4 linked regions of the Homo sapiens genome follow. The protein of the gene in region 4 binds, or shares a complex with, the protein of the main gene of each other region. Each region holds a gene or a part of one and is shown on either strand. Other genes may lie near its edges. The genes, in order: KANSL3, PHF20, KANSL1 and KANSL2.

The links.
Region 1: KANSL2 (region 4) and KANSL3 share a complex: the UniProt entries of both Homo sapiens proteins name them as parts of the NSL complex.
Region 2: KANSL2 (region 4) and PHF20 share a complex: the UniProt entries of both Homo sapiens proteins name them as parts of the NSL complex.
Region 3: KANSL2 (region 4) and KANSL1 share a complex: the UniProt entries of both Homo sapiens proteins name them as parts of the NSL complex.

Annotation. Positions count from the first base shown.
Region 1 is NC_000002.12:96,635,293-96,642,750, reverse strand, and holds the start of KANSL3 (KAT8 regulatory NSL complex subunit 3), read left to right. Parts: upstream 1-4,438; 5' UTR 4,439-4,468; exon of another isoform or gene 4,469-4,491; intron 4,492-4,759; exon of another isoform or gene 4,760-4,910; intron 4,911-5,402; exon of another isoform or gene 5,403-5,565; 5' UTR 5,566-5,615; coding exon 5,616-5,830; intron 5,831-7,458. UniProt on the Homo sapiens protein: Non-catalytic component of the NSL histone acetyltransferase complex, a multiprotein complex that mediates histone H4 acetylation at 'Lys-5'- and 'Lys-8' (H4K5ac and H4K8ac) at transcription start sites and promotes transcription initiation.
Region 2 is NC_000020.11:35,943,004-35,950,025, reverse strand, and holds part of PHF20 (PHD finger protein 20), read right to left. Parts: intron 2,542-7,022; coding exon 2,399-2,541; 3' UTR 1-2,398. UniProt on the Homo sapiens protein: Methyllysine-binding protein, component of the MOF histone acetyltransferase protein complex.
Region 3 is NC_000017.11:46,183,424-46,190,445, forward strand, and holds part of KANSL1 (KAT8 regulatory NSL complex subunit 1), read right to left. Parts: intron 1-7,022. UniProt on the Homo sapiens protein: Non-catalytic component of the NSL histone acetyltransferase complex, a multiprotein complex that mediates histone H4 acetylation at 'Lys-5'- and 'Lys-8' (H4K5ac and H4K8ac) at transcription start sites and promotes transcription initiation.
Region 4 is NC_000012.12:48,679,220-48,686,940, forward strand, and holds the start of KANSL2 (KAT8 regulatory NSL complex subunit 2), read right to left. Parts: upstream 3,020-7,721; 5' UTR 2,968-3,019; intron 2,423-2,967; 5' UTR 2,414-2,422; coding exon 2,163-2,413; intron 615-2,162; coding exon 436-614; intron 1-435. UniProt on the Homo sapiens protein: Non-catalytic component of the NSL histone acetyltransferase complex, a multiprotein complex that mediates histone H4 acetylation at 'Lys-5'- and 'Lys-8' (H4K5ac and H4K8ac) at transcription start sites and promotes transcription initiation.

The sequences.
Region 1 (7,458 bases), on a different chromosome or scaffold from region 4:
ATCCTGGGGTGAGTGGAGCCCCACTTCCTGTCTGTTGCTAAGCAACAGACAGGCTGTCACAAAGGTGGGCGGTTCTTGGTTCTGGAGAGGAATTAATGGGAAAGAGAAGGGGGAGGAGGAACAGGGTATAGGTGACTGGGCCTGTAGAAACAAAACCACCTGGCTGCTTTCACCCCCTTTTCTTATTGCCCAGGCTGGAGTGCAATGGTGCGATCTCAGCTCACCGCAACCTCCACCTCCCTGGTTCAAGCGATTCTCCTGCCTCAGCCTCCCGAGTAGCTGAGATTACAGGCATGCGCCACCACGCCCGGCTAATTTTGTATTTTTAGTAGAGATGGGGTTTCTCCATGTTGGTCAGGCTGGTCTCGAACTCCCGACCTCAGGTGATCTGCCCACCTCGGCCTCCCAAAGTGTTGGGATTACAGGCGTGAGCCACCAAGTCTGGCCTTAAAAAATTTTTTTTTGCCCACCCCACACCTGCCCTCCTTGCCGTCCTTTTGATTTCAAGGTCAGACATAAGGTTGATGTTTTCTCCTTGTACAAGCAAGTTGTCTGGAGCCAATCATTGCCAAAGTCACACAATGTAGATGAGAAAATAAGAAAACAGTGAAGTGACCTGAGAAAAGGGATAGGAAAATCAAGGACTATTTCTGTGAGGTCTCAGGGAAAGTTCTTCCTAACGTGGAAACCTTTTTACTAAGAAAAACCTAAGTTTAGATACGAGACCCTCTTTGACAAAAGGAAATTAGCTTTTGAATTAATGAGCTCATATGGAAGGTCAAAGAAGACAATGCGGTTTTGAAGTGGCTGTCTTTATGGCTGTCTGAGCCTCTGTGCATTAAGATGGAGCTGGGGCACCTATTCTTATTGTCCACAGCAAGGCTTTTTAGGCTTTAGGGTTGAACATCGTATAAATTACATCTTATCCAATAGTTAGAATGAAAACTAATGAATATTTAAATGCTGGGATTGGTGGCTCATGCCTGTAATCCCAGCACTTTGGGAGGCCAAGGTGGACGGATCACTTGAGGCCAGAAGTTCGGGAACAGCCTGGCCAACATAGCAAAACCCCATCTCTACTAAAAATACAAAAATTAGCTGGGCGTGGTGGCACGTGCCAGCAATCCCAGCTACTTGGGAGGCTGAGGCAGGGGAATCGCTTGAACCTGGGAGGTGGAGGTCACAGTGAGCCAAGATTGCACCACTGCACTCCAACCTTGGCAACACAGCGAGACTCTGTCTCAAAAAAAAAAAAAAAAAGGCCGGGCGTGGTGGCTTACGCCTGTAGCCTGTAATCCCAGATCTTTGGGAGGTTAAGGCGGCCGGATCACGAGATCAGGAGATCAAGATCATCTTGGCCAACATGGTGAAACCCCGTCCCTACTAAAATACAAAAAATTAGCCGGGCATGGTATTGCGCGCCTGTAGTCCCAGCTACTCCGGAGCTGAGGCAGGGGAATCGCTTGAACCTGGGAGGCGGAGGTTGCAGTGAGCCGAGATCACGCCACTGCACACAAGCCTGGCCACAGAGCAAGACTGTCTCAAAAAAAAAAAAAAAAAAAAAAAAAACAATGTTTAAGAACAATCTATTAGTTAATGAAACAACTACTTAGCAGTAAGCGTACCACGCAGTCTAAGAGATGAATGGATTCAAAGACTGAAACGCTGGGTCAGTGATCAGGGTGCTGATTGCTTTCTAGTGCAGCAGATTAAAAAAAAAAGTGCTTCTTGGAAGTTTTTCTTGAAATCTAAACACAACACAGTGCTTTTCGCTTTGTGAATGGCTTTTCAAAGTAAGCGTGACACAAAAGACCCTGTAAGTGAAAAGCTGACAGATTTGACTGTATTAAATAAAAAATTCCTATGTAGAAATTATGCCTTAAAGCTAGAAGACAAATATCAAAGCAGGGAAAACATTTTCAATATACTTAATGTCCAACAGTTTATTTAATAAATGTTTATAGAGCAAGCTCTTAATAAGAAAAGGATGACTATCCCAAAGGAAAACAAAGGCAAAGCTCCTATCAGATAATTGCCCAAAATGACAAAAAAAAATTTTTTTTAAAAAACCCTCAGTCTTGTTAATAATCAAAGAAATACAATGAAATACAATTTATGACTTTGCCAAATTGGTTTCAAAAGCCAAAAAAGATGTAAAAAAAAAAAATCAAACTCACTGGGCACGGTGGCTCACGCCTGTAATCCCAGCACTTTGGGAGGCCAAGGCGGGCGGATCACGAGGTCAGGAGATCGAGACCATCCGGGCTAACACAGTGAAACCCCGTCTCTACTAAAAATACAAAAAATTATCCGAGCATGGTGGCACACGCCTGTGGTCTCAGCTACTCGGGAGGCTGAGGCAGGAGAATCGCTTGAACCAGGGAGGTGGAGGTTGCAGTGAGCCGAGATCACGCTACTGCACTCCAGCCTGGGCGACAGAGAGAGACTCTGTCTCAAAAAAACAAAAACAAAACAAAACAAAAAACTCATTAATAAGCAAATAAATGGGATAAGATACCATTTATCACCTCTTAAATTGGCAAAGAATGAAACAAAATGATAAACGTGGTGTGCTGAGGAAAGGAAGGGGCAGAGAAAAGATACAAATCTGTTTTTAGTGGGAATGGGAATATAAGTAGAGAAATAGCAGAACCCTGGCCCCAAACAAGCGCCCAGGAGACAAAGTTAAGGGTAGGGAGAGGTGGGGCAGGGGCTGCTCTATTTGTGATAATTTCTATGGCCTTAAGCTCCATATTTCTAAACAGCACTTTTAAATAGCATTCCTTGATTTTTTCAAATCTATGAGGCATTTTCCCAGTTTTATTGTTTTCCCCGGGGCTCTCCCTCCTGGTCTTCTCTTCTCCCCCAGCTGAGACTAGTGGTCCCCAGTCCTGCAGCATAGCTATTGTCCTGGGATACTCTTTGCCATCACCTTCAGAATTCCTCGTCTGCTTCTTGTGTTAGACCCTGCTTCCCCGATCCTATGCCTTCCGTCTTCTCAGTTTACCCTCTCATCTTTGTGGAACACAGCTTTGAGTGGCTTTCTGAATGTTTCGAGTGTTTGCATGTCTGTACCTATCTTTTTTTTTTTTTTGAGACAGAGTCTTGCTGTGTCGCCCAGGCTGGAGTGCAATGGCGCGATTTTGGCTCACCGCAACCTCTGCCTCCTGAGTTTGAGAGATTCTCCCACCTCAGCCTCCCGAGTAGCCGGGATTACAGGCATGCGCCACCACACCTGGCTAATTTTTGTATTTTTAGTAGAGACAGGATTTCGCTATGTTGGCCAGGCTGGTTTTGTACTCCTGAACTCGTGATCCACCCTCCTCAGCCTCCCAAAGTGCTGGGATTACAGGCGTGAGCCACCGCACCCGGCCATTTCTTTTTTTAAATAGAAACGAAGTCTCACTGTTTTGTGCAGGCTAGTCTTGAACTCTTGGGCTCAAGCAATCTTCCCACCTTGGCCTCCCAAAGTACTGGGATTATAGGCATGAGCCACAGATCCCGGGTGAGATTTATCATCTTGAACCATGTCTCTTGCTGTCTTGTCTCATGTCTCTTGATGTCATGTTGTCAGTCAGTCAACCAAATAACCAATTATTGATCAGTCAACATTTGAACAATTACCTATGTTCTGGGTGTATGTTCTCTGGAGGATACAAAGGTTAATGTCCCTGATTTTGAGGATCTACTCTCTCTACACAAAACACATAGGAAAGTTAACCACACAAAACAATCTAGGGTCAGTAACAAAATTCTTTTTTTTTTTTTTTGAGACGTAGTCTCACTCCGTCGTCCAGGCTGGAGTGCAGTGGTGCAACCATGGCTCATTGCAGCCTGGACCTCCCAGACTCAAGTGATCCTCCCACCTCAGCCTCCCGGGTAGCTGGGACTACAGGCATACACCACTATCACACACACCTAATTTCTAAAATTTTTTGTAGATACGGGGGTCTCATCATATTGGCCAGGCTCATCTCAAACTCCTGAGCTCAAGAGGTCCTCCCGCCTAGGCCTCCCAAAGCGCTGGGATTACAGGCGTGAGCCACATTAGGTAAATTCTTAATGAGTAAATTCAGGTGGCTGCCCTGGTGGAGGTGGACCGTTGGGTGCTCGACCGCCCAGAGGGCACAAAGGACCAACACGGTGGGGGTGGCGAGAACTGGGGCCGTAGAAGCCAGCCTAGTCCTCCGCCCTCGCTTTCCCTACTGAATATGCGCGAGGGGGAAACTCCAGCCTAGTTGTTGACTTTCTGCTTCGGACATGCTCGCGTGTTCTTGGCTCTCCTCTTCCGGACAGAGGCGCCGGAGCTTCATCCGTTCCGGGCTTTGCCGCTCACCGCCTCTCCCTTCCCAGGCCGTAACCCGCTTCCGCGTTTTACTCGGTGCCCGCAGCGCCGGGGCGTGGAGGCGTTAACGCGCACGCGCTTAGGGATCCGGCCGTGGCCGAGCGCGCGGCCGTAAGACCGCGGGTGAGAGCAGCGTTGGCTTCGAGGGGAGTGGCGGGCCGTGGGGATCGCGGCCGTGGTTGGGACGGCCGGGGGTCTCGGCGAGGGCTTCAGGGCTCCCGGGGCATGCGGGGGCCCGGGCTAGGGCCGGCTGCCGGTGCTGGTCGGGCGGGGCGGGTCGGGCCGGGGGCGGGCTGGCAGGGGCCGCGTCTGGGCCTCCGTGACGCGGACGCCGAGCCCTGCCCCAGGGAGCGGGAGGCGGGAGGCGGGGGCCAGGCGGCTCCTCCTCGTCGCGAACTCTGGATGACCTTGGCCAAATCGCTTCAGTTCCCCGAGCTGGCGACTTCGTCTGTAAAATGCGAGTCATAGCCCTGTCTCCTAGATGGGCCGTGTGGAGGCTCAGTGGCGGGAACGCCTGCGGGGCAGCCGGGGTCCTGGGCGGTTTGCTAGGGACGCCTCACTGGGGGTGAGGGTGAAAGGGCTTCCACGGGGATCATTTTGTCACAGGCTTTGTTGGGGGGGCAGTTTTCATTTTTATGTAAACAACTCTGGAATATTACGAAGTACTTAACAGAACTTTTGTTTCGCACAATACGAGAGGCTTGAAGAAGTGGAGCCCTAGCTGGGATTCGCTTTTTTGAGGCCGGCGTTGCCCTGCCCTTTAGGGGTGCCCACGCTCTAGCTGCGGCCCCGGCTCCCTTCGCATTGTCGTTAGAGGATGGTGTGAAGCAACAGAGATCCTTAGCTTTCAACGAATTCATATTTGTGATTTCCTGTTTGTCAAAACCCTTCCTGCCCACCTAGGAAGTGGTGCTGGCCAAGCAAGTTTACTGTCTGTCCACGCGAGGTCTTTCTGAACCTTGGGGTCGGTGAGCTCTCCCGTTAGGTAATTTCAGTTCGCTAGAGGTTGAGTATGGGACAACTCGTGGCACCATAGTTTTTTTTTTCTTTTTTTTTGGTGTTGGTGTGGGATTCCACGAACCGTCCCCACCAGAGGTCTGCCGTGAAATGGATACTCAATAGGAATGATAGTAGGTTACAAAAGTAAGCATGTTAGATGGTGTAGATTGGGAGAAATTTAGGATATTGGAATTGACCTAAACTGAAACTTTTCACTGCAGGTGACTAGCATGCAGATACCCATGCTCTGACTTTCTGCCCCTCCACTGACATGGCCCACCGGGGTGGGGAGAGGGACTTCCAGACTTCAGCTCGACGCATGGGCACCTCGCTGCTCTTCCAGCTTTCAGTGCATGAACGGGAGCTGGACCTGGTTTTTCTGGATCATAGCTATGCCAAGCCTTGGAGTGCCCACCCAGATGCCAGTAGTGCCCGCCCCACCCGCATGCTCTTTGTCACTCCCCGGCGGCAGCACGAAAGTACCATGTGAGTTGGGGCTTCTAAGGGCTGCTGGTAACCTCACTGGGCAGTGATCAGATGGGAATTTAGAGAGGATTTTCTCAGGATTGACTGGGGGAGATTGTATGAGGCATTTGGATGTTAAATTCAGGCATCTCTTAAGCAGCATAAGGATAGCAGGCTTGAATGTGGCTATCTCTGTGAGACAGCTAACAAGAGTTAGGAAAGCAAGACGTGCAAATGAAAAGCAGACAACCTATTCCACTTAGATAGTAGGACGTGTGGAAAGGGGAAAATCGTAGAGGGTTATTTAACTGGTGAAGAAAAAGACTGAAAAGTTGATTTTAAAAGATTACCCACAGGATACGACTCTTTTATCACATTAGTCCAGTGCTCTGGGTTGCTTGACAGTGGCAACAATAGCCTTTTTATAGTAATGCATTTTGCTTTTCTTGGTTTCACACACGAAGGTTAGGAGCCAATTCCCAAGACGTTGCTTTTTCTCTTCCCTTGTTACAGAGCTGCTATCCATAGGTTAATCTAAACCCTTCTTATGTCTAATGATATTTTCACCCAGCCTATGTTATAGGGTAAGGAAGTTTCATAAATTGACTACCTGATGAGTGATACAGTTACATTTGGTCTAAATAAACCTGTTTGCCAGTTCTTTTGCACTTTAAGGCATTCTAATTATGTTTCATGATGTGTTGATATATTCCGTTATGGTGATCAAATCATGTCCTTAATAATTTTGTAAACTTTTGGAGAAGAGTTTTGTCTGTTTGTTTTTAATCTGACCTAATGTTTAATCTTTCCTTAAGCACTGGTTTTAATTTTGTTGGGGGTTAGAGCCCTTGTAGAGGCTTCTTTAGAGTCACCCCTCCTGGAATTGAGACTTAATGACCTAATGAGTTAGAGATACCACAATGTGTGTGTGTGGTTTTTTTTTTTTTTGAGATGGAGTCTTGCTCTGTCGCCCAGGCTGGAGTGCAGTGGTGTGATCTTGGCTCACTGCAACCTCCACCTCCTGGGTTTGAGCGATTCTCCTGCCTCAGCCTCCTGAGTAGCTGGGACTACCGGCGTGTGCCACTGTGCCTGGCTAATTTTTGTATTTTTAGTAGAGACAGGGTTTCCACCCACCATGTTAGCCAGGCTGGTCTCGAACTCCTGACCTCAGGCAATCCACCCGCCTCGGCCTCCCAAAATGCTGGGATTACAGGCATGAGCCACCGCTCCTGACCCACTGTGTGTTTTAAACATGTGCAGAATAGTGTCTTTTATTTCATTTCCCAATGACTTTATAATTTTGTTGGCTTTTTTGGTGTACAGGAGATAAAATCTGTAACTTTAGGCAATAATTTAGCATAATCTTGATGCCTCTGGCCTAGGGCATAACTGAAAAGCTCCTTTAAATAGTAGTTGAAGTCTTTTCCTTTTTTGCTGCATATTAGCTTCTTGCTGACATTAAAACTCCTGTGTCCACATCTCATGACATTTTCTTAAAGTGAGATTCTGTGGACTTGGTTCTTTTGGTACTTAGAAAATTGTTTCCTTTTATAATCTCTGTCTCCAAATATAGACCCTGAAAGTGAGAATTTGGCATGCTGTAAGAACTCTTTTAGGCCAGTGTGGCCAGAATATAATAGCAGTAGGGG
Region 2 (7,022 bases), on a different chromosome or scaffold from region 4:
GCTGGAGTGCAATAGCGCAATCTCGGCTCACTTCAACCTCCGCCTCCCAGGTTCCAGCACCTCTCCTGCTTCAGCCTCCCAAGTAGCTGAGATTACAGGCGTCCGCCACCACGCCCAGCTAATTTTTGTACTTTTAGTAGAGACGGGGTTTCACCCTGTTGGCCAGGCTGGTCTCGAACTCCTGACCTCAGGTGATCCACCTGCCTCGGCCTCCCAAAGTGCTGGGATTACAGACGTGAGCCACTGCACCCAGCTGATAGTGCACATATTTCTAAATGGTAACAGCAATGTTTGCAAATAACGGTTTCCAGTGCTCCAACATAGGGTTAATTCACCTTGACCCAGGAATTGGGAATGGAGCCCCTCAACATGGCTTTAAATTAGGGAAGCACAATGAGGTTATAAGAACTTGGGGAGTCTTCTCTGCTTCCCTAAGAACAAAAGTCACAATGAATGAAAGGAGATTACTTCCTTTACCAAAAATTTAAACAATAATCCCAATAATGGCCAGTTGGCAAAATTAGGGCAATTCAGTTTCTGCTTACATCGTTGAACAAGACATGAAATTGACTACCTTAAAAGTTACAGCTTCCACAGATGTGATTAAAACTCAAATGTATTTTCAGAAAAGAAAAATCAGTAATCTAATAATACAACAATCATCACGCCTCACAGGTGTGGCTACAGAAAGCCATCCTGTTTCTTCCCTTTTCAGACTGCATGACAGAACTCTTACAATGCAGCTGTCTGAACGTGCATGCCATGCACGCCTGTGCATTTCTTCCCACGCCAGAAACACCAACGTTAGCAGTGAGAAACAGCCTCTTGTAGAGGAATCGTCGTTTTGTTATAGATGTTATAGCCACGTGTATTCTCTCTGATGGACAGCTATAGCAGATCAGCTTATACTTGTCCTATAATTCATTATATATCAAATGGTGAGCAAATCACTAGACAGAACATTCCCTGAAATAGATTTTAGTACAGAGGCCTGAATTCATGTCCACAATGACCTGTGCTTAACTATTCCAAAGGTCGCTAAAGATACTGTTACTACTATTGAGATATTATTGGCTACTTCACGTTTACATAGTAAATGTTTGCAGCATATAACATTACAGACTCATAAACCCATAATTAACTTATAAGTGTTAATGGACAACTGTGCTTTGATTTTTGCCTTTAGTGATAAGAAAACAAAGTAGTGAAATGGGTCACTCCTCAAAGCATGGAACATTTTAACTTTGCCTAGTAAGGAAAAACAAAACAAAATATAGCAATTACATGTGGAACCGTAACCTGCAAAAGTAACACAAATATTGTCTCAAAAGGTACAAATAGGTTGTACCTGGACCTTAAGCAGCATGATCACCTTGCTCTCACAAAATAATACAAACAGGAAATGTAAAATGTTAAAGTATAGTAACAAAACAATTCTGAAAACGCTGACTACTAAACACCCTTCAGGAAGGAGAAAAGTCGCACATGTAGAATTTGAAGTTTGTTTACAACAATATAAAATAAGGTAATTCCCCAAACCACATTCTTTGTAACAAATCTTTACAGTGAAAGAGTTTGAAATTTTGGGAAACATTTTTGGACATTAAATAGAACGGGGAAGCTGTCAATATTAAGAAGTGGGTAGAAAATGCTGTCCTTTGGGTTCCAGACCCTGCCTGCTTCGGTTTGGAATTCCTCCTAGATTCTTATTACTGTGAGTGAGATTCTAGTTCTTCCATAGGCTGTATGGGCTCTGCTACAAAAGCCATAACCCAGCCAGCTCTGGGGTGAAGGCATACAAACTTGTCCCCAGTACCATGAAGTCATGCAAGAGATGTGGTGAGAAAAGTGAAGAGTCCTAAGGAGAAAGCAGGGCAGCCAAGACTCTGCTCTTTCCCAACCTCCACAGCATGGTGAGCTCACAATATTCCTATGAAGCTAGAAAAGGAAAATGATGCCTGCTGCCCAAACACCATGCCAGGAAGAAACCAGGGAGTTGGCATGTGCCCCAACGTGATAGAAAAGTCAATTAAATAAACTCCAAATTGAATTTACAACTGTCTCCAACTAAACTTTTTTGGCTCTCATTCCGTTTATCATCAGTGGCACAATTTCAAGTGAAGTTTGTGCAAAAAGACTCTCTTCATTCAACGATGTGCACAGAAGAGGGGAATCCCAAGAGTCTATTTGCTACCTTTATGGCAGGCTTCGAGATCAGAGTGTCCTCCCGCAGCCAAAATGGCCTCTTTGTCCAATGTCCACCACACTCCTGGCCCAGATCCCTGAAGTCAGTCGGTGTCACGTGCATTCAGCATGCTAGGTTTATTTATTTAAATATGCGAAGCTCCTCCTGCAGGTGCCCCAGGATTGTGCCCCCATGAGTTTTGGGTGCCCAGTTTCATGTTGAGCAGCAGAGGGCGATCTGCTGCACCTTGCCCAGGTCCATCAGCAGCTGCTTGATACAATGCTTGAGCTGCGGAAGCCTGGCCAGCGGCTCAGGGGGCTCCAGTTCCCCAGTGTAGTCCAGCCAGCTCTCCAACACTGTCGGCAGAAGAGAGAGATGAGACCTAGTGAACTCCCAACACTTGATTTGCAAGAACATCAGCAAGCATTTCAGCACCTTATTCCATCAGACATGGGGCAAGGGAGGAAGGGCCATTTCAGCCTCCATGGGGCAAGGGAGGAAGGGCCATTTCAGCCAGCACTGTGTCAACACCTGCTCTACAAAGTGGTACTCCCAGGACAAAACACAAATGCTTTAGAGCAGCACAGTCCAAAAGAACTTTCTGCGATGATCAATGGTCCAAGTCTGTGTCATCCAATACAGTAGCCACTAGCCTTATGCAGCTATTGAGCGCTGGAAACATGGCTAATGCAACTGAGGAACTGAATTTTAAATTTTATTCAGTTTTGGTTAAACAGCCACACATTGCCAGAGGCTACTGTTACCAGAGTCTAGAAGTCTTGGAAGGAAGCACCTTTCTGAGTGTTACCACTCACTCTTTAAAAAGCTTTCCCAGCCGGGCGCGGTGGCACATGCCTATAATCCCAGCACTTTGGGAGGTCGAGGCGGGCAGATCACAAGGTCAAGAGATCAAGACCATCCTGGCCAACATGGTGAAACCCCATCTCCACTAAAAATACAAAAATTAGCCAGGCATGGTGGTGCCCGTCTGTAGTCCCAGCTACTCAGGAAGCTGAGGCAGGAGAATTGCTTGAACCCGGGAGGCGGAGGTCGCAGTGAGCCGAGATCGTGCCACTGCACTCCAGCCTGGCGACAAAGCGAGACTCCATCTCAAAAAATAAAATAAATAAAATAATAAAATAAAATAAAATAAAATAAATAAAATAAAATAAAATAAAATAAAATAAAAAATAAAAAGCTTTCCCATGTTGAAAATCAGAGAGCCTGGTGTTTTAGCATCCTGTCAAGAAAAATGAAAATCTATAGGGTCTTGAAAAGGTCTATTTGTATATCATAAACTCTGATTTGCTTCATATTAATTCCTGATTGATACGCAATCATCAGTGGCACAGAATACTCTGTTATTATTTTCTCCCTTTATTTATTTACTTATTTATTTATTTTTTTGAGATGGAGTCTCACTGTGTCGCCCAGGCTGGAGTGCAGTGGCGCCATCTCAGCTCACTGTAATCTCTGCCTCCTAGGTTCAAGCGATTCTCCTGCCTCAGCCTCCAAAGTAGCTGGGATTACAGGCATGTGCCACCACGCCCGGCGAATTTTTGTATTTTGGTCTCAAACTCCTGACCTCAGGTGATCCACCCACCTCGGCCTCCCAAACTGCTAGGATTACAGGCATGAGCCACTGGGCCTGGCCTTTTTTTTTCTTTTGAGACAGAGTTTCGCTCTTGTTGCCTGGGCTGGAGTACAATGGCAATGATCTCGACTCACTGCAACCTCCGCCTCCCGGGTACAGGCGATTCTCCTGCCTCAGCCTCCTGAGGAGATGGTATTACAGGCACACACCACCACGCCTGGCTAATTTTTGTTATTTTTAGTAGAGATGGGGTTTCATCATGTTGGCCAGGCTGGCCTCGAACTCCTGACCTCAGGTGATCCACCTGCCTTGGCCACTTTGAAAGTGCTAGGATTACAGGCATGAACCACCATGCAGGACCCCTTTAAATATTTAATGTAAGATTTCAGGTATTAATTAACATTATCATCATTGGTTCAATATCTAGAAAGCTGTCTTGCTTGTGAGAACAAGTATTTCTCTACAGAAAGATGTTTGTTCTTCCCTAAGCTACCCCCTAAAGCTCTGGCATTTGGGGAGAGACCATCTGGGAACCCTGCACCTTTGACAAGAACCACCCCCTGCAGGTAGCCCCTGTGCTATCCCAGCCTGCCTGTAGCCTTTCTAGTCCATGCACCAACCTGTACTGAGCACCTTCTGGACCCTGGAGTGCAGCAAAAGAAAGGCCCACCCAGTACCTCTTCATCAAGCAGCCTGCAACCTACTGCGCAATCCTCTCCTGTCCTCAGATGCAGCCCTACCTTCCTCTCCACCTTTCTAAATCCTCTGTTTCTTGTGAGCTATTCTTTAGGGAAGCCTTCCCCAACCCTATACCCTGAATCTGGTCCTTGTGTTACAGGTGCTATGATATCACATGTTCTCCTTTGAGCATTTACTATGGTTTGTCATTACAGGTAATGGGATGATTTGTTTAATATATGTCTCTCCCACTAGATCAAGTTCCACGAGGGCAAAGGCTGAGTCTGCCTTGCTTGCCACTATATCCCTAACACTCACCTGTGTCTGAAATGTGGCAAGCCTGCAACAAACACAGCGAGAGAAGGAATGTGTGGTCCAGCAAAGCGCCCTACCCATTGCTCTGGGCCCTATGTAGTTTATCCTCCTCCATCATATTTCTTGTTGGTATTTGGGGGTTCCAAGAAGGAGGAACCCTCTCTCTTCCTAATTCCAGCAAGTACAAGGACTTGGAAATAAGAAAAATAAGACCACCTCCTCAGACTTAAGCTTGAAAACCATTAGTAAAAGATCAGTCATGTGAGAGGAACTAGTGGCCTGCTGAGCAAGAAAACTGGATAGTGACCAGTTTCAAAACACCAGTAAGTCTTTAAAAAAAACTAGAAGGAGACAGGGGACTGTTCAGCAAACAGGCAGAAGAATAAATGGAGAGGCCGGACGTGCACGCCTGTAATCCCAACACCTTGGGAGGTCAAGGGAGGTGGATCACCTGAGGTCAGAAATTCAAGACAAGCCTGGCCAACATGGTGAAACCCCATCTCTATTAAAAATACAAAATCAGCCAGGTGTGGTGGCAGGCATCTGCCTGCTACTTGGGAGGCTGAGGAAGGAAGAGTCGCTTAAACCTGGGAGGCAGAGGCTTCAGTAAGCCGAGATCATGCCACTGTACTCCAGCCTGGGCGAGAAAGAGCAAGACTCCGTCTTAAAAAAATAAAATAAAATAAAAATAAATAAATGGACAAAAGGCAGTCAGGACTGGATGGGTCACTCCAACAGCAAAGAGAGTCAGTCAATCTTTTGCAAGATGATCCTACAGTTGCTGAGAGGCCCCTCTTAAGGTCACCCTAACTACCTTGGATCTAGTTCCAGGCTCACCAAAGACATCCCGATACTACGGTGGCCCAGGAGGCATGCACAGTGTGAAAGCGCACCAACGCTCAGACTGGAAGAGTCTAAGCCACTCAGTAGTGCCTGAGCTTGGTTAACAGGAGTGTGTGGAGTTCCTGAGATGGAAGCTGTCTGTCTAGGTCTGTTAGGCTGAAGAACAAAGCCAGGACTGTGGGAAGTCAACAGCATCTCCTCTGGACCCCAGCATCCAGCAGGCCACCCTCTCCATACCATGTGCTGCACCATCCCAAGTGTCTCTTTTAAAGATGCAGAACAGCTTCCAACTAGCATAGTGGTTGCTAGCAAGACAGAAGGTTACAGAGGAAAAAATTCTGTTCAAATACACTAAGATCATGTGTATAGAGACCACTGCTCACCAAGGCAACATTTTTTATTTAAGAAAATAATCTCTCTAATGCCAAAAGACTTTTTTACTTTTCATGGTCATTAAATATCCTTTGTCTTTTAGTTTTAAAGTACTGTTCAGGCTGGGTGCAGTGGCTCACACCTGTAATCCCAGCACTTTGGGAGCCCGAGGCAGGCAGATCATGAGGTCAGGAGATCGAGACCAGCCTGGCCAACATAGTGAAACCCCGTCTCTATTAAAAATACAAAAATTAGCCAGGCATGGCGGTGTGCACCTATAATCCCAGCTACTCGGGAGGCTGAAGCAGGAGAATTGCTTGAAGCCAGGAGGTGGAGGTTGTGGTGAGCCGAGATCGTGCCACTGCACTCCAGCCTGGGCAACAGACCGAGACTCCGTCTCAAAAATAAATAAATAAATAAATAAATAAAGTACTATTCATATAACTACATAAATAATTAAATAATGGCCAATTGTAAAACAATGGCATATATATATATATATTTCATATAATAGCTTACTAGGCTTTTTTTTTTTTTTTTTTAAAGAAATGGGGTCTTGCTCTGTCACCCAGGCTGGAGTACAGTGACACGATCATAGCTCACTGTAACCTTGAACTCCTTGGCCTCCCAAAGCACTGGGATTACAAGTGTGAGCCACCACGCCAGGTCAGCTTTTAAATTTTTTTAAATTTTTTATTTTCAGACTGAGTCTCACTCTGTTGCCCAGTCTGGAGTGCAGTGATATGATCTCAGCTCACTGCAACCTCCGCCTCCTAGATTCTGCTGCTTCAGCCTCCCAAGTAGCTAGGATTATACGTGTGCACCACCACACCCAGCTAAGCAGGCCGGCTTTTTAAAAAAGGAATGTTACATCCAAATTCCTATTTTAAAACTTGGTTATGAAAGCTTAGTTTAGGGCTGGGTACGGTGGCTCACGTCTATAATCCCAGCACTTTGGGAGGCCAAGGTGGGCGGATCATGAGGTCAGGAGATCGAGACCATCCTGGCTAACACAGTGAAACCCTGTCTCTACTA
Region 3 (7,022 bases), on a different chromosome or scaffold from region 4:
ATAATAATTAGCTGGGCATAGTGGGAGGGTCACTTGAGCCTGGCGGGTGGAGGTCGCAGTGAGCTGTTATCACGCCACTGCACTCCAGCCTGGGTTACAGAGCAAGATTCTGTCTCAAAAGAAGGAAAAGAGGAGAGGGGAGGAGAGAGGAGAGAGGAGAGAGGAGACAGGGGAGAGGGGAGAGGAGGTGAGAGAAGAAAAGGAGGGAAAGAAGGAAGGAGGGAGGGAAGGAAGGGAAGGAGTAGGGCCGGGAGAGGTGGCTCACGCCTGTAATTCCAGCACTTTGGGAGGCCAAGGCAGGAAGATCACTTGAGGTCAGGAGTTTGAGACCAGCCTGGCCAACACAGCGAAACCCCGTCTTTGCCTGTAATCCCAGCTATTCAGAAGGCTGAGGTACAAGAATCACCTGAATCTGGGAGGCAGCGGCTGCAGTGAGCTGAGATGGCACCACTGCACTCCAGCGTAGGCGACAGAATGAGACTGTCTCCAAAAAAACAAAAAGAAAGAAATGAGTAGAATTCAGCATTGCCTATACAACTACTTCAAGCATCCCATATTCAAAACCCATTCCCTGCCCCAACACCAAATCCAAAACTTCCTCCTGCTCCTCAACATTGTCTATTTGAGTTAATCATGACCTCAAATCACCAACTTACTTTTTACCATAAATATTTAATTTAAACATCTACTAAATGCCAGATACAAGATAGTAAAATATAAATTAGGTGTGAAGGTAGCCTAGCTTGATAAAGTACTGTATTTCACCTGAAGGGGTCAAGGAAGGCTTCTAGAAAAGATGACATACTGACTGAATTTTGAAAGGTGAGGTGGTGCACAGAGGGTGAGGGTTGGCAACACACAGAATGACAGGCACATTCATTCCATCCTTGGTGCCAATGCCCTAGTGCAGAACCTCATTATGTACTATAGTAATTCAGGCAGTAATAATCTCCCAACTATTCTTCCTTCTTCCTGTCTCAGCAAGCCTCTAATCTAGCGTCCACTACCAAAATGATTATTAGAAAGGGAAGAAAAAAGGAAAGGAGGGGGTAAACCTAAATCTAACCATTTAAAATCTTTCACTGACTCTAGAGTAAGGATGAGTCCAAATTCCCCACACACCATTATCTGTCCCCTTTTTACATTAGACCTCATCTCCAGCCTGTCCTCACTGCAGCCACCTGAAACATATGTTTCCTGGCTCTTCTATGCCCCTGCACCTTTACTCATGCTACTCTTTCACGGTTCAGCTCAAGGTTACATGCTCTTTCAAGTATTCCCCATTACTCCCAGGTTGAGGTGGGGTCCCTCCCTCTAGGCTCTTACCTGCACCCCCATGACACCCTGGCTATTGCTCATGGTACAATATAAACTCACAATTTTGTCTTGTCTCTTTCTTCCCCAGAGTATGTACTTTTTTTTTTTTTTTTTTTTGAAACAGAGCCTCTCATTGTCACCCGGGCTGGAGTGCAGCGGCACAATATTGGCTCACTGCAACCTCCACCTCCTGAGTTCAAGCGTTTCTCCTGCCTCAGCCTCCTGAGTAGCTGGGATTACAGGCACCCGCCACCACATCTAGCTAATTTTTTGTCTTTTTTAGTAGAGACAGGGTTCCACCATGTTGGCCTGGCCTGACCTCGTGATTCGCCAGCCTCGGCCTCCCAAAGTGCTGAGATTACAGGCATGAGCCGCCACGCCTGGCCAACTATGTACTTCTTAAAAAAGGAGGGTTATAGCTTGTTTTATCTCTGTCCCCTACAAGCAGCACAATGCCTGGCAGACAGCAGACCAACACACGTTAAGCAACCTGAGCATTCTATGCTAAACCCATCAGATGAAGATCCATTAGGACGTTAATGGGGATGTCTGAAGTGATCAACCACCTAACAAGAAGAGGCATCAACTGAACCTAGGATAGGCTTCACCCACTACAAGTTCCAGTTATTTACTTGACCAAGCACCTGTACCCAGACTAGGAAACTTTTTAACTACACTTTTTAAGCTATTATTAAATGTGGTTACACAGCATTATAAAGGTAATAGCCATCAAAATCACAAATGTAATTGCTCAAACTTTTACCCAGCAACTGCACTTCTAGAAATCTATTCAACAGAAATATTCTCATAGGTACTCAAAGATGTATACACAATGCTTTCACTGAAGAACTGGAATACAAAAAAAAAACCCTAATTAAAAAGATCAAGCCATATAACAAGTATGATCCCATTAAACATATATATATACACATATATATACACACACATATATACACACACACACACACACACACACACACACACACACACACACGGATAGGCTAGGCCCCATGGCTCATGCCTGTAATACCAGCTACTCTAGAAGTCAAGGTGGGAGGACTGCTTGAGCCCAGGAATTCAAGACCAGCCTAGACAACATAGCAAGATACCATCTCAAGAAAACTTTTTTTTCTGAAGGATGTCTATATATCAAACTATTAATGGTGTTAATCCTACTTCTATGCTAGCACTGAATTCAAATTTCCTACCACTCTTTAGCTGACAAAAGACAGAGGAAAAAAAAATCATACTTTTTATCATATCTCTTTCCAACAAGCCCTAATGGTTGGTGTAAGTGCTCCTGAACAATCCTAAAATCAGCGACTTCTGGAAGATTTTAAGAATTCTAAAGGAGGCCGGGCGCGGTGGCTCATGCCTGTAATACCAGCACTTTGGGAGGCCGAGACGGGTGGATCACAAGGTCAGGAGATCGAGACCATCCTGGCTAACACAGTGAAACCCCGTCTCTACTAAAATGCAAAAAAAAAAAAAAATTAGCTGAGCATGATGGCGGGCACCTGTAGTTCCAGCTACTCGGGAGGCTGAGGCAGGAGAATGGCATGAACCCAGGAGGCAGAGCTTGCAGTGAGCTGAGATCCCGCCACTGCACCTCCAGCCTGGGGCACAGAGCGAGACTGTGTCTCAAAAAAAAAAAAAAAGAATTCTAAAGGAAACAGGTTATTCTGGGAGGGTCCATGGCCAAATTCCTGAGTTCCCACTGAAACCTACCTTATACCTTTAGAGAAAAGTCAATTAATGACTTTTAAAAGTACATTTTTCCAATGCCAATAAAATGTTAAGTCAATACTAATATCCATTTTTCATTCTCTTGGGAGGCAAGGGGTAAGGAGTAAATCACTAAGTGCAAAAAAATACAGTCCAATTTTTTGGAGACATGCTTAAGGTCTTCAAAGAGCTTCAGTTCTCCATGGTAACATATGGAGAGTTTAATGAAACTTTCCTGACAGTTCAACTTATCAGACTGGTATTTCTTTTTTCTTTTTTTTGAGACGAAGTCTCTCTCTGTCGCCCAGGCTGGAGTGCAGTGGTGCGATCTCGGCTCACTACAACCTCCGCCTCCAGGTTCAAGCAATTCTCCTGCCTCAGCCTCTTGAGTAGCTGGGACTACAGGCATGCGCCACCATGTCCAGCTAATTTTTGCTGTTTTTTTTTTTAGTAGAGACAGGGTTTCACCATGTTAAGCCAGGCTGGTCTCAAACTCCTGACCTCAGGTGATCCGCCTCGGCCTCCCAAGGTGCTGGGATTACAGGCATGAGCCACCACACCCAGCCCAGGCTGGTATTTCTATGAAGTGTCTCTCCTATACTAGAAACCAGAAACTAGCTACAGTACTTAGCTTTGAGCCTCTTTCCCTTCACACCCTCTGGTGGAGGTGCTAACAAACAGTCACAAAGGCCAAATAACAAGCAGCAAGAGGAAAGTCTAGATATGAGTTCTTAGCAATTTTTGGTTTAACATCCTAACAACAAAATTGTTATTCCTCTTTTTTATTCCCTAATACTTACCTTCCAACTGAATTTAACCAAGTCTAACCTTAAGCTCTCCCCTTTTTAAAAAGGAATTAAAAGGTGAGGGACTCCATTAAGTTTGATGTCACTCAAGCAACTTTTTCCAAATAAGAGCAGAATCTGCTGTAATTAAAATTCAGAGTAAGATCTCATTTTGGATTCCTGGTTCAGGTTACAAGAACCAGAGTTTTTAAAATAACATTTAGATAAAACTGCACTCAATCTACCTCCACTTTGCATTTCCTGACCCTCAAAATCTTGGAAAGAAACTTTAATTCTAAAAAAATTACAGCCAGGAAAAAAAAGGGTAAGTTCACAGTCAGCAACAATAAAATACACAGCTAAATAATTTCCTGGTAGAGGGCTTTCAAATGTTAACACTGTGGAAGCAGCTTAAAATCTTGGAAAAGCAAGGCTTGCAGAAAGTAACATTTATTAAACAACTATTTTGCCGCATTGTGCTACTAAATGGGGAAGGTCTACTCTATTTAAAAGGTCTCTTCCACCTTAAAGGGACTCTTTGCATAAAGGTTTAAAATCTTCATATAAAATGTTTGATTTTTTTCTTTCAGACTGCCCAAACTCATTTGTTTTTGATTCATAAACATGAGCTGTGTTTTCTACTTTGGTCAAGTCAGTTTCCGCACTCTATTTTAGCTTTACCTTTATTCTACCAAAGACAAGAAAATGCTTAATAAAAAAAAATATATATTGCAGCTCTTTTTGGAGTCCAAGTATTTTGGTAAATCACACCTTTTGGCTTATTTTCTCCTATGTATTTTGTTCTACATCCTAAAAGGCACATGGCTTAAAAAAGAAACAAATAATAATAGTTACCCCCTGCCATACTAGTCATCTCCTATGACCCACAATCCTCCCCTCAATCTGCAAGTGACACCCAAGGATATCACTTACCTCCTATATCTTCTGATAGCCTTCAAACGCTGGTGAACTCTAGTACAGTGGATATTTGTCTTTTCTAATTCATACTGTCTTCTACAGCCATAGTGTGGTTCAACTGAGTTTTGATCTCACATTTCAGGGAATGGGAAGTACTGATGAGGGAAACTTATCTTGTCATATAAACTATTGTTCTGCACAACTTTTAGTATGCCCAGAGGTATATACGCAACTTATCAGCATAGAAACTGTAATTTAAACATACATCTTCAGAAGCAACATGAGAACTAAAAAAGTCTTAAAACAGACTTCCAAGAAACAGTTATGAAGTCCAATTTTAGGAAAAAGACATGATCCAAGTGTTCTTTGCACTGACACAGTAGGCAAGCCAGGTGTCTGGGGCCATTTTACTTAAGAACCTGCCCTGTACTCCTTTCTTAAGGTAAGTAAGTAAAGAGGCACTAAGGTAAAATACGCTTCCCAAGACATAGACTAATCAAATCACTCAAGGCAGGAACATTTAAAATGAAGAAAGAGTACAACGAAAGCTGCTTTAAAACTCTAAATAAGACAAGCAAGGGGCCAGGCCCGGTGGCTCACGCTTATAATCCTAGCACTTTGGGAGGCTGAGGTGGGTGGATCACCTGAGGTCCGGAGTTCAACACCAGCCTGGCCAACATGGCAAAACCCCATCTATACTAAAAATAGAAAAAAATTAGCCAGGCGTGGTGGTGGGCACCTGTAATGCCAGCTACGCAGGAGGCTGAGGTAGGAGAATCGCTAGAACCCTAGGGGTGGAGGTTGCAGTGAGCCAAGATCGCGCCACTGCACTCCAGCCTGGGCAACAGAGCAAAGATTGTCTCAAAAAAAAAAAAAAAAAAAAAAAAAAAAAAAAAAAGACAAGCAAGGTTATATGCTCCCGTTGCTCAACCTACTCAGGAGGCTAAGGCAGGAAGATCACTTGAGCCCCGGAGTTCAGGCACTCTAAACTGTAGCGCACAATGATTACATCTGTGCACGCCAACCTGGGAATCACAGCGAGACCCCGAGACCTCGTCTCTAAAATGAAAAAGAAACAAAATCTCTAAACCACTCAATAAGATTTACTCTGGGGCAATCAACAGACAACCACTTATTCAGTTTACCCTAGTCCCTCCCCTCTAAACTCAAGGAATGGAACGGAGAGGTCCTTTGTTGGGGGGTGGAGAGGGACAATAAAACTATATACATCTATCTAGCAAGAAAGTCGCTTATTTCTGTGTCTTAATGGACTCACCAAGAAGAAAAAAATAGCCCCTACCCATCTCCCCACAAGCTGAAAAAACATAAAAGGAATACGCATTACTCTTTAAACATGGCGTTTACTATGTTTAGAAAATCCAGTGTGGATTAGTTTGGTGTTTTATAGCACATTTTAAAAATTGCTTGTCTAGGCTAAGCGTAGTGGTTCATGCCTGTAATTCCGGCACTTCTGGGAGGCCGAGGCAGGTGGATCACTTGAGGTCAGGAGTTCGAGACCAGCCTGGCCAACATGGTGAAACCCCCGTCTCTACTAAAAATACAAAACTTAGCTGGGCATGGTGGCACACGCCTGTAGTCCCAATGGCACATGCCTGTAGTCCCTGCTACCCAGGCGGCTGAGGCACGAGAATCGCTTGAACCTGGGAGGCGGAGACTGCAATGAGCTGAGATAGCACCACTGCACTCCAGCATGGGCGACAGAACGAGACCCTGCCTCAAAAAAAAAAAAAAAAAAAATTGCTTGCCTGATATAACAAGGTAACTAAGCTTTACTCGCAAAGGGGCCTAATCAGAACCTCTCAATACTAAAATACCTTCTCAAACAACCACAACACCCCTATGTTTACAGAGTACACAAATCAGGTCATAACGAACAGAACAAACCTAAAACTTCTTATTCACTTTAAAATGCAATTAAAACCTGTGGTCAACTCAATCCTCTACAGAAGACGCAGAGACACTGGTTACAATGTAGCATTACTAGAGATGGAAGAGTAGCCTTAGTGACAGTGAAGAAAAAAGTTTAGTATAGTTACTTCACTTTCTTCTCACCTTGATATGAGTTCACAAGTGAACTAAGGCCTACTCATTTTCTAACTTCCAGAATTTTCCTCAACAGGAAACACTCACGTAACAAAGAGTGCTCTGCAGGTTTAACCAGAGAAATAACATGTGTAGGCAGGAAGAAAGAAAATCAGACAAAAATTTAACATCTCACGTTGGTAAAGCACCAAAGTCAAATACGAATGTTCTGAA
Region 4 (7,721 bases):
TACTTTTATCAACCCAAACCTTGAAATTTTAAAAACAAAACAAAAAAAAAAACACTTAGTACAAAGGTACTGGCAAATAAAAACGCTTTAAGAAAATACAACCCAAGTAAGATTACTTACAACATAAATGAGTAAACCATGCCCTCTCAAACAGAAAAATCAACTTAAAATTACTGTTTCCTGAAATTACCTAACAAAGCTGCTGAGCATTAAAAAAGCAATGAAAGAAATGGTCACCAACTCAGGAAAGTAAACCTAGGCAAACACAACTTCAAATTCAAAAGAACTGGTAAACAACAAAGCAATCCCAGCATTCTCACCAAATTCCTGATGAATTAACAATATTGCCAAATAGATCAAGGCATTGTGCTAACCCAAAATAGTTCCCCCTTAACTTTCTTCCTCCTTTTTCATTCCAGGAGAGAAGGTCCTTACCTAGTATTCGGCTGGCTTCACTGCGACTACTTTCTGGAGTCTGAGACCCCAGCTCTGTCTTAGCATATGAGCTCAGCTGGCACAGGAGTGTTTCACCCACAGGCCCTGGGTTGGTCTTCTTCATTTGAGCATGAAGTGCCAGGGCATTCCTACGGACATGTTCAGCACAGAAGGACACCCTGAAGAGACAAAACATTAATATTTTATAAGTTCCTTCTTGAAAGCGTTCAATAATGTTCACAGTCCCTAATCTTTAAATCATTTTTAGGGAATTAAAATGACTATTACATTCATTTCTAAAAATGCAAGTCAGAGGAATTTAACTGGCCCAAGGTCAACTCATTTGACTTTATTAAAGGGAAATAACAGGACGGATGAAGTGGTTCACCCTTGTAATCCCAGCACTTTGGGAGGCTGAGGCAAGGGATTGGGTCTTGCTCTGTTGCCCAGGCTAAAGTGCAGTGGTGCAATCATAGTTCACTGTAGCCTTAAACTGCTTGGTTCAAGCGATCCTCCTGCCTCAGCCTCAAAGTAGCTAGAACTATAGGCATGCACCACTGTGCCCAGCAAATTTTTTTTAGTTTTTTGTAGAAACGAAGTCTATGTTGCCAAGTCTGGTCTGGAACTCCCAGGCTCAAGTGATCCTCCCACCTCAGCCTCCCAAGTAGTGGGGACTACATGTCCACGCCACTATGCCCAGCGAGTTTTTTAATCTTCTGTAGAGACGGGGTCTCACTGTATTGCCTGGGTTGGTCTCCAACTCCTGGCCTCAAGTGATCCTCCTCCCGTGGCCTCCCAAAGTGCTGGGATTACAGGCATGAGCCACTGCGACCAGCCAGGGACACAATTTTAAAACTATAAGATACGTAAAAAATTATCTAGTCAGGTTATGTTTTTGCATGGATACCTTTGCATACATGATGAAAACTATGAAGCCTCTTACAGAAGAATACACACATATATAACTTTGCATGTTATTTAACAAAATTCATGGACAGCCAAATAGAGCCACACACCCCTCCATTAAGAAGAATTTTAGGGGCCAGGTGCGGTGGCTCACTCCTGTAATCCCAACACTCTGGGAGGCCGAGGCGGATGGATCACCTGAGGTCAGCAGTTCAAAACAAGCCTGGCCAACATGGTGAAACCCCGTCTCTACTAAAAAGTACAAAAATTAGCCGGGCATAGTGGCGCACGCCTTAAGTCCCAACTACTTAGGAGGCAGGAGAATCGCTTGAACCTGGAAGGAGGAGGTTGCAGTGAGCCGAGATCTCCACTGCACTCCAGCCTGGGGAATAAAGCAAGAATCTGTGCGCCGCCCCCCCGCCAAAAAATTAACTTTAGGGCCGGGCGCGGTCGCTCACGCCTGTAATCCCAGCACTCTGGGAGGCCGAGATGGGAGGATACCTTGAGGCCAGGAGTTTGAGACCGGCCTGGTCAAAATAGCAAGACCCCATCTCTCTTAAAAAAAAAAAAAAAAAAAAAAAGACTAATTTAGAATATGCCTTTATTTTACAGATAAGGGAAAAGAACCAAAGAGGTGAACTAAGTAATCCAACTCAAGGGTCTTTCCAGTCTTCACCGTTTTTTCAGTTTTCCAAGGATACAACCATAACCCCAAATTTACAAGGACAAAATCTCAAACGCGGCAGCTATGCTGAAGCCCGCATCATATCACATACCCCCTCGCTTTAAGAAAAACGACATATATATCTATACATATATACCCATCTTTCTTCTCTGGCTTTGGGGCAGCATTGGGACATCTTTTTCCATTCTTCGTCGATATATAACTACACTGCTTGAAGGGTGCATTCTTGTCTTCAAGGATATGCTTAATGCAAAACTCCTGCCCCTCCAGACGAGGGTGAGAGCATGGACGATGAGTGAATGCACAAGACAGAGGTTCCTGAGACCTGGGCACTGGAGTGATCCTCCCCCGATTGGTTGGCAAGACGTGAATCCGAATCCTGTTCATAACCAAAACCTGCGGGGTCAAACGAAAGACCAAAAAGCCCTTACCCTTCCCGAAAATTCCTGCTCCACACAGATCGCGCGGACAGTTTCCAAAGGACATGCAGAAGTCGTCCCCGTAAGGTACGCTCCGTAAGTCCCCGCCGCCCTCCCCAAGTCTCCACAGGCATCTGTGGCTTTGCCTCCCTTTAGCGTGTCCCTCCATGCCCGGCCCCACCCCGAACCACACCACGCTGAATGTATCTTCAGGACTCGCACAGCTGCAGCACGAAGGGAAGCGACAACACCAGCCCCACGCGGCGGCCACGCCGCCTCCCCGCACGCCGCCTTTGTCCCGGCCTGCCTCAGAGCGCACGACTGGGCCTGGCCTCGGAAGCCTATGCGAGCGCCATTTTGTCCTACGGCTCCAGTCACCGGAGATCCTGGCTCCTGGAAGCCTGCAGGAAGGAGACTGACTCTGACACTGCTTTGAGGCGGAGTAGCAGCTCTGAGCTGACAAAAAGAGCGAAATAGCAGCCCAACCGCAAGAGCTTAGAGGAAAGAGCACCGCCATCTTACCTCAGGAGCTGCGCTGCGCCGCACTCTGCCGCGCCGCTCGCCCTTCTCTAGTGGCGCCAGCGGCTCTCAGATCGGCCTCGCCCCTTTCCGGACTCCTGGCTACTCATTGGCTACCGCTCGTATGACAGGATGTCGCCATTGGCCGAGACCAACTACCTATCGTGTCTGGGAGGGCGGAGCGCTGAGAAAATGCGAGGTTGGGGTGGCTAAGACAGACTGTCTGTCAGCAACTCCGCCCGGAGGAGAGTGAGCCGGGGAAGGGGGCGGAGAGCGGGCTGCGGGGCGGGTTGCCAGCTAATATTTTTCCACCTTGCAGCGTGGCTCGTTTTCCGGCTACTTTTGGACCCTCAGTCTGTGGTCCTAGGCTGCTGTTCCCTCACCACTGTACACAGCTAGTATAAAATCAGACAGACAGGCCGGGCGCGGTGGCTCACGCCTGTAATCCCAACACTTTGGGAGGCTGAGGCTGGCAGATCACCTGAGGTCGGGAGCTCGAGTCCAGCCTGAGCAACATGGAGAAACGCCGTCTCTACTAAAAATACAAAATTAGCCGGGCGTGGTGGTGCACGCCTGTAATTCCAGCTACTCGGGAGGCTGAGACAGGAGAATCTCTTGAACCTGGGAGGCGGAGATTGCGGTGAGCCGATATCGCGCCATTGCACTCCAGCCTGGGCAACAAGAGCGAAACTCCGTCTCAAAAAAATATATAAATAAAAAATAAATCAGACAGAGGCTGGAGGATCACTGTTTACACATAAAAAGTCTTTAGCTTTCTTTTGTGAACAGTTCAATACATGTACTGAACATTTGGTATAGAGAACACTGAGAAACATTTTTTGGGTGTTTACTGATTCTGGGAATTACATGTATAAAGTCATTGAATTTTTCAAAGCAACCCTAAGAGGTACAGGTTAGTATTATGTCCATTTTACAGATAAGAGGACTGAGGAACAGAATGGGACCATAGCTATTAAATGGGAAAGGAAGACGAATTTGAACCCAGCCCGCATTCTTTATCCCTTATTGCCTCTTATATAGTAAAGAGCATTGGACTGAGAATAAGGAAATATTTGTTCTAGTTTAGGGCTGCTTCTCATAACTGTGTGCCCTGTCTTTAAAATTCCATGCTAAATAATGCAGGTATCATAAAAATGACAGACACAATACCAATCATACCATCCTTTAAGGATTTTTAGTTTAAAAGCATCTTTCTGTCATCTCCACCACTTGTAGAAATGATTCCTAGCTTTCTTCCCATAACCCTTCTAGACATTTTTTGCTTTCCAGCATCTCTTATCTCCTCACTGTCAGTTTAAGAAAGATGTTTTATCCATGCCTAACGAGCAAGTGAGCATGAGTCCCAGTGGAAGTGAACATAAAGATTCCACAGCCCTCAAGAAAAACACTAAGGCTGGGCGTCATGGTTCACCACTGTAATCCCAGCACTTTGAAAAGCTGAGGTGGGAAGATCACCTGAGCTCAGGAGTTCGATCCCAGCCTGGGCAATATGGAGACACCTCATCTCAAATAAATAAATAAATAAATAAATAAATAAATAAATAAATACACTATAGGACCGATAAATTATTAAAAAAAAAAAAAAACCTTGGGGGTTGTGCTGTTTCCAGAGACTAGAGCAGCCCTAGAAGAAGGCCTGAAATTCATTCATTCAACGAATATTTATTGAGCACCTAAGTGCCAGGAGAGAACAAGGAAGATAACCCTGCTCTCTTGGAGTGAACATTCTAGGATAGCTTTGGATTATGGATGCAATACAAACATAATATTAATAACAATGATTTATATACATAAGCAAACAGACCAACCCTCAGGAGTACGAAAAAAGATGTTTTGTTATAAACACCCTATAATTAAAAAACAGCCAGAGGCAGTCATGTCACAGAAAATTTGGGAATCCGAATCTGCAACCAAATGTAGTAATATCAAAAAGCAACATTAAAACTACTGTAGTGAACAATATGAAGAGACACAGGAATAGATGGGGAAGAAACAAAAGACTTTCTTTCAATGAATTTACTGAAGGTCTTAGTTGAAAAAAGAATCCTTCTTGTAAGTCCAAGACAGACAAAACATTACTATTTAGAACCACTTCTTTTTTTTTTTTTTTTTTTTAGCGGGAGTCTTGCTCTGTCGCCCCGGCTGGCTGGAGTGCAGTGGCGCGCGATCTCGGCTCACTGCAACCTCCGCCTCCTGGGTTCAAGGGATTCTTCTTCCTCAGCCTACCCCCCAAGTAACTGGGACAACAGGTGTGCGCCACCATGCTCGGCTAATTTTTTTATATTCTTAATAGAGACAGGGTTTCACCATATTGACCAGGCTGGTCTCCAACTCCTGACCTCGTGATCTGCCCACCTCAGGCTCCCAAAGTGCTGGGATTACAGGCGTGAGCCACCATGCCCGGCCTAGAACCACTTCTAAGTGAAAGGAGGGAGCAGATATTAAGAGCTCAAGATGTCAGCAAATTCTTTGTTCTGTTTAACAAAGTAGATGGCTTTTTTTTTTTTTTTGAGATGGAGTCTTGCTCTGTTGCCCAGGCTGGAGGTAGATGGTTATTTTTAATTCACTGAACACTTTGTAGCTATTGAAGAGGTTAAAGTAGACCAGAAGCTATTTGTAAATAGGGATTAGGAAACTAGAGTTTGGGGGGCTAATCCTAGAGAAAAGTGAGAAAAAAGATGAAAACGGCTGGGCGCAGTGGCTCACGCCTATAACCACAGCACTTTGAGAGGCCGAGGCGGGTGGATCACCTGAGGCGAGGAGTTCAAGACCAGCTTGGCCAACATGGTAAAACCCCATCTCTACTAAAAGTACAAAAACTAGCCAGGTGTGGTGGCATGTGCCTTAATCCCAGCTACTTGGGAGGCTGAGCAGGAGAATCATTTGAACCCAGGAGGCAGAGGGTGCAGTGAGCCAAGATTGTGCCACTGTACTCCAGCCTGGGTGACAGAGCAAGACTGTCTCCAAAAAAAAAAAAAAAAAGTTATCAAAGACCTTCACCTTGCTAATTCTAATGAAGTTTTCAGGCATCATCTTATTAGACCACTTTGCAATGTCTAACACACTTGGCCACTCCTCCTCCTTAGAACTCTATACTCTTTCTAGATCTCCATACTCTTCCTAGTTTCCCATCTACATCAGTCACCCACTCTCTGTCTCGTTTCTCTTTTCCCCAATTCTAAACACTGAACATTTCTATTTTCTACTACTACTTCCTTAGTTATCTCACTCTGTTTCATCCCATTCATAAGCTGTTATCTCCCAAATGCATATATCCAGCCTGGATCCCTCCTTTGAACTTGACTCTCTAGTCATCTGTCCAGTAGGCATCTCCACTTGGATGTCTAATTGGCATTTCAAATTTAATGTTAAAGCCAACCTCCCGCTACTCCCGTAGTCATCTCTACCTGAGTATATGACAACCCCAACCTTCCAGTTGGTCAGGACAAACACTGGGAGTTATCCTTCACTTCCTTCTCTTCCACCTCATAGCAAATCCTATTAGCTCCATCTTCAAGCTGTATCACTTCTCGGCTGAGCAAGGTGGTTCACACCTGTAATCCCAGCACTTTGGGAGGCTGAGGCGGGTGGATCACCTGAGGTCAGGAGCTCAAGATCAGCCTGGCCAACATGGTGAAACCCTGTGTCTACTAAAAATACAAAATTAGCCGGGTGTGGTGGCACATGCCTGTAATCCCAGCTACTTGGGAGGCTGAGGCAGGAGAATCGCTTGAACCTGAGAGGCGGAGGTTGCAGTGAGCTGAGATCACGCCATTCCATTCCAGCCTGGGCAACAAGAGCAAAACTCCATCTCAAAGAAAAAAAAAAAAGATACATCACTTCTCATTACCTTGGGTACTTCCAACCTGTCCAAGCCACCCTCATCTCTTACCTAAATTGTGAGAGCTCCTTGCCCTTGACTCCTATGATCTATTTTCAACACAGCAGCCCAAATGAACATTTTAAAACCTAAGTTGGATGTCATTTCCCTTCTCAAAACTTTCCAATAGCGTCTGTTCCATTCACTGTCTTTATACAAGGTCCTGTTGTATCTGGCTTTCTATTGCCTCTCTAACCTCATATCCTGCTACTCTCCTCTCTCCAATACCCCCTCCCCACTCATTCCTATACCAGCTACACTGGTTTCCTTGCTATTTCTCAAACATACCAGCATATTCTCACCTCAGAACCTTTGATGTCTCACGTTTCCTGGAATGATCTTATCCTAGTTATTCCCATGACTTGCTGTCACCTCCTTCAGGTCTTCCCTAAAGGTCATGAAGCTTCTGGTCATGAAGCCTTCCCTAGCCACCTTTTTTCCAATTCCCACAGCCCTAGTTACCTAAACACACACACGTGCTCACACACACACATGCACACACACATCCCTATCCCCTATTCCCTGTTTTAGTCTCCAAAGTGCTTATTATGGCCAGGTGTGGTGGCTCACACCTATAATCCCAACAAGAGTGAAGGAGGCCCAGACGGGCAGATCGCTTAAGCCCAGGAGTTCAAGACCAGACTGGGCAACATAGGGTGACCCCATCTCTAAAAAAATTAGCCAGGCGTGGTGGTGCACACCTGTAGTCCCAGTTACTCAGGAGATGGGAGGATCACTTGAGCCTAGGGAGGTCAAGGATGCAGTGAGCTGTTATCTCACCACTGCACTCTGGCCTGGGAGACAGTGAGACTTCGTCTCAAAAAAAAAAATTTTTTTTAAGTGCTTATCACCACCT